2 separate regions of the Homo sapiens genome follow, and region 2 is linked to region 1. A link means that fine-mapping ties the variant in region 1 to the expression of a gene that starts in the linked region. Tissue or cell type: whole blood. Region 1 holds a variant in brackets; the other region holds the start of a gene. All regions are shown on one strand. Distances are from middle to middle.

Region 1 (2,760 bases):
CCTCGGCTTCCCAAAGTGCTGGGAGTGGTGTGAGCCACGACGCCCGGCCCAAATTTTTACTTTTATTATAAACTCAACATATACTTTTGTTTTAAAAAGACAAACAATACATAAATTGTTATAAAGTTAAAAGTGAGTTCTCTGTTTTACACAATCTTATTCTGAAAAGTATCCATTGTTAGAATGCTTAGGAGAGACAGTAAGTTTTCATACTACTTTAAAAATAAGACCAAGTTCTTAAGCTTGGCTACACATTGGTGTCACTTGGAGACTCTGTGAGTCCCACATTAAATTCTGATTTAACTGGTTTGGGTAAAGCCTGGGCATCAGGATTTTTTCAGTTCCCCAGGTGAATGTAGCGTGCTAGGATAGCAATTTGAAATAGGGTATGGCCAGGGAAAACCTCACTGATAATAGTGGAGGTGGTGAAAAGGGGTGGGATTCTGGATTTATTTTGAAGGTAGGGTGCAAACAGGATGAGAGAGAGACAAGGATGACTCAAAGGTATTTGGCCTGAGTGCCTGGAAAGACACGAATTACCTTTTACAGAGATGAGGTGACTATGGTTGGGCCTGTTTGGGGTGGGGTGGAGCACATCAGAAGCTCGGTTTTGGAGATATTCAATTTGAGATGTCTTTAGACATCCAAATGGAGAAAGCAAGTAGGCAGTTGGGTAAATGAATCCAAGATCCAGGGAGGAGGTCTGATCTAGAAATATGTGGGTGTTGCCAGAGCGTAGGTTACATGTGGCATGGTAGTGGAGGTCGTTTCTAGGTACTGACAGGGCTGCGGGTATAAAAGAGAGCCAGGCCACAGCTCTGTGCTCTTCTGACTTGGCAGACACCCCATGCTATGCATGCTCCATCCCACACTAGGCACACTACACAGACCACTTAGCTTTGTGTATCCACTCACCTGCGTTCCTGTCTCATTTACAGTCTGCTCCTTTACTGCTTTTGAAGTAAACTCAAGTAAAAGCACCTTGAACAAATTGCCTTTGCCCATGGTCTAGACTAGCTCACCGCCTTTCCTTCCTACATATGCACACATACCACCCGCATGTGCTGAGGGCTCCTAAAACCCTTCAAGGAACCTACACAGCCCATCTATGCTGGCTACAGAGACACCTGTACCACTGTGTTAAGACTGCTGCACTCACACATGTGGAGCTTCCAGAGTGCCCCTTGCCCATCCCTATCTTGGATCCCAGATCTCAAGCCAGAATAGCCCATACCCAGTTAATACATTTAGCGTTTGCTGATTGAGCACTTACATGTCCTGAGATGGGTCAGGTCTTAATGAAAGACAGAACCTGTGCCTCCAGGAAGCACACCATCTGGTGGAAGTCAAAGGACAGCAGCCAGCTGATAAGGAACAC[G/CACG]TGTTAAGTCCAAGGCAATCTGGAAGCAAAGGCGTGGGGCACGGACACGTCAAGGGAAACTTCCCGGAGGCAGCAACTTCTCATCTGGGGTGTGTGTGTGTGTGTGTGTGTTTGAGACAGAGTCTCACTCTGTCACCAGGCTGGAGTACAGTGGCGCAATCTTGGCTCACTGCAACCTCTGCCTCCCAGGTTCAAGCGATTCTCCTGCCTCAGCCTACCGAGTAGCTGGGACTACAGGCGCGCGCCACTATGCCCAGCTAATTTTTTTTTGTATTTTTAGTAGAGACGGGGTTTCACCATGTTGGCCAGGATGGTCTCGATCTCTTGACCTTGTGATCTGCCCACCTTGGCTTCCCAAAGTGCTGGGATTACAGGCATGAGACACCGTGCCCGGCCAGCCTCATCTGGTTTTATGAGGGAACCAGGCAGTTGAGAGGTGTGCATGGTTGGTGGAATAGGGCATTCTAGGCCAAACCACTATGATGGGAGAACTGAGTGGGGTAGGAGGTGGGGGGAACTGCAAATAACACACAGTTGATGCCAAGTGTGCCAGAGGAAAAGACAGAAGATGAGGGCAGTGGGAGGCAACCGCCTAAAGGCTTGTTTTACAGAAATCCAGGGTTATGTAACCAGCAAGGGAGGTGGGCGGGGCGGGCTTCAATCCAATGAGCCTGGCTTCAAAGCCTGGGGGTGGTCTGAGGACAGAGCACAGCAGGAGCTCCTGAGAAGCCTGCTAAAAAGTCAAAGTCTGGGCCACACCCAGACCAACTGAATTAGTAGGATCTGGACCCCAGGAACATACATTATTTTCACAAGTGCCCCCAGTGACTCTGATGCACACTACAGTTAGAGACCCACCACCCAGAGCCCTCCCACCTCTCCACTCTACCCTTGCTGATGTGGACTGACTCTCAATGCCCCCAAGAAGTAGGATGATTCATTTCCATGGCCATGGATTATGCTTTCAGAAACACTCCCAAACAACCCGGGGAGTTCTGGGAATCACAATCAGATGGGGATGGGGAGGACAGGGGGAGCAGATCAGGAGAAGAAATTTCCGGCCAGGTGGGAGGAGGTAGGGTTTTTTGTTTTTTGTGGAGGGGGTTGCAGGCATAGGGTAGGAGGTCCTGTTCAGGCACTCAGCAAACAATCCCCAGTCCCCAGCTCTTCCCAGGACTCAAGGACAAGAGGCAAAGAACCACGGAAACAGCCGTTTTTATTCCACAAACAGTAAACTCCATCCACTACACAGTGACATACACTGTGTAGCACACCCCATCACCTTGGCCAGTGCTGCCAGCCGACCTTTCTGTGGTGATGGAAATCTTTTTCTGTGCTGTCCAATACAGCAGCCACCGACCACTTTTGCTTATTGAGCACCT
Region 2 (2,500 bases), 42 kb before region 1:
TGCACCAGAGACTCGAATCCCAGCTAGGGGTGGGGACCCCCCCTTGGCTGCGTTTCAACGACGCCTTTGTCTACCCCTGGGCCGTGCGAGGGAGAGGACTGACGGATCTGGTTTCAACCGCCTTGACTTTCCCGGGGGTCCCCGGGTCCGGGGGCGCCCCTGTTCCCGGAACCCGGGCCCTCCCACCTCCTCCCAGCCCAGCGCGGCCCCGCCCCGTTCCCGCTCGGCCGCCGTGGGGTTACCATTGGGCAGAGAGCAGAAGGTGGCACAGCCCGCGCTGCAGCACTTGAGGTTGTCGGCGCATTCGCTGTCCGAGACGCACTCTTGCGTGCAGTTCTGGTCAGCCTGGAGCTCGGGGCACACGCCAGTCTTCTCTGCTCCTGTGCCTGGGAGGGGAGGCCCGGGACAGTCGAGGGTGGGGCGTAGCGCCAGCCCCAGAGGATGCCCACCTCCTGCTCCAAACCTTAACCCCAAGGAATTCTCAGTCTCTGGCCCTAGGAGTCCCCTTACAGCCCCCAGAGACTCCTTCTTCCAGACCAGGAGTCCCTGACCCCTGGGAGTACGAGAGCTCCCTAACCCTTGGCGTCGGGGCCCTCAGATCTCAGCCCTAGGGGACGCCGCACAGCTGAGCGTCTCGGAGCTTCCGAGGTCGAGGCAGAGCAGCCCCCACCCCCAGCCCACTGCAGCCACGGAGTGTCCGCGTTCAGCACAGAATCCTCCCAAATTGCAGCCATCAGTGGTCTCTCCACCTCCAGCACATTGGACCCCACACCCTAGGCTCCAAGGGTCCCCGCCACTTCCGCCCCCGGAATTCCCACTTCCCCAGCCTCCAGAGGCTACGCCTCCGCCTGGCTCCATCCTGGCGCTCGTGGCTCGGCCCCTCTAGGCGCCGGGCCTCTCCCCGCCCCACTCACCTGAGACTAGGGTGAAGCCGAACAGCAGCAGGCTGAGGAGGAGGGCGGCGGCTAGCGGGCCTAGGCGACAAGCAGGCATGGTGCTATGCCCGGGCGGGGTGCAGGTGTGAGCCGATGCTCAGGTGCGGGGATTTAACCGCGCGCGCGGGAGGGGGCGTGGGGTAGGGGTGGAGCCGAGCGGGGAAGGGGAGGGTGGAGGGCTTTGCGGGCACCGCGGGCGGGCTGCCACATGAGGTCATTTCACAATCCCCCAGGATCAGGTATCACTCTTGGCCCCGGTGGGAACCAGGAACTTAAGCAGCTTCCAGGACGGGACCAGCTACGGCCGGACCCTTGTCCACGCCTCCCTCCTGACCTCCCTCCTGGGGCCTGAGGGCCAAGGCTCAGGGCTCCTGGGTTTCTATTCCAAGACTCCGAGGTTTCTCCAGAGTGTCCCCAGTGGGCGGTTGAGGAGGATAAGGCAGGGCCCGCAGGGAGGCAGTAGAGCATGCGGGTTAAAGGGTTCGATTTGGGGTCAGCCAGATGAGAGGGCAGATCCCTCTTGATGGAGGGCTAGGGTAGTGATACAGAGCACATAGTAGGGGCTACAGAAATAGCACTTATTATTAATAAACAAACCCTCCTCATCAGAAACAGGCCCAGGAAGGTGAAGCACCTAGCAGTCTCAAGCCGTTTGGGTGTGTGTTTCTGTCTCCCTCTCTTTGTCCTACCGGCCCCTGATCAGGGCTGACTGTGCCAGGCTCTGTGCTCCTTGTCTCAAGGAATTGTCGCCGGTCCTCTGACCGGGGAGTTACTGTTATCAGCTGTATATGACAAAGGAACTGAGTGTTTAGGGATTTAGGACCGCACCTCCACCACAAGGTCCCCTGCAAAGCTGTACAAATAAGGTTTTGAACCCAGGTCTCTCCCTCCAGGCCCTTGTTTTTTCCATTCCGTCGTAAATATTCACTGGGTGCCTACTGTGTGACATATGCAGGGCAAGACGCTTGGTGAAGAGAAAGTCGTCAAAAGGGGCCCTCCAGCACTGGTCTTGAAGGGGTGACAGGGTCTGGGGTCTGACTCCCACCTCCACCACTTCCCACCTGAGGGCCCTGGAATGAATCCTTTCCTGGATCTGAGCTGCCACATCATCAGTGAAAATGACACCTATATGGGACTTCAGTGAGAACACAAATGCAACGTTCCTGCCACGGAACAACCATGTACTCACTGGGAGCATTGAGAGTAGATCCACACTGATTGACACAGGGACTCCAGGCCTGACCCATGATAGGTACTGGATACATGGCCATGAGTGCTCCACAGATAAGTGTCTCCTGTGACGAAGGAGACCAATAAGTATAAATGAAGCTTTAGAATCCAGGGGGTTAAGTGCCAAAACAGAGTTACCCAGGGAGTTAGACAAGAAGTGCTTCCTGCTCCAATGATCTGAGGTTCTAGAAGCCCCAGGAGGTCTTTGCTGCTGGAGGCTAGAGGGGCCCTGGGGCAGTGAACACTGGGATGATAGTGACAGGTGAGTAGGGTTTGGTGATGTGAGTACATCTGGCCACTGTCCCCAAAATGGATGCTGAGAACACCTCCCCCAG

The links. PIP is the estimated chance that this variant, and not a neighbour inherited with it, causes the effect.
Region 2: WFDC2 starts here. The variant in region 1 is fine-mapped to the expression of WFDC2 in whole blood (TOPMed, PIP above 0.99). The same link has a PIP of 0.9 or more in cerebellar hemisphere, cerebellum, hypothalamus, nucleus accumbens and prefrontal cortex.

The regions. Positions count from the first base shown.
Region 1 is chr20:45,426,059-45,428,818 of GRCh38, reverse strand. PIGT (phosphatidylinositol glycan anchor biosynthesis class T) reads right to left here. Exons shown (of 12, transcript NM_015937.6): 12 at 2,578-2,760. It overlaps LOC105372631 (a long non-coding RNA gene), which reads right to left and starts at 1,397. Exons shown (of 4, transcript NR_159957.1): 1 at 1,274-1,397. The variant G/CACG (reference allele first, on the strand shown) is at 1,379.
Region 2 is chr20:45,468,275-45,470,774 of GRCh38, reverse strand. It overlaps WFDC2 (WAP four-disulfide core domain 2), which reads right to left and starts at 1,022. Exons shown (of 4, transcript NM_006103.4): 1 at 915-1,022; 2 at 243-386. The coding sequence starts at 993. RefSeq lists silencers at 98-147, 168-357.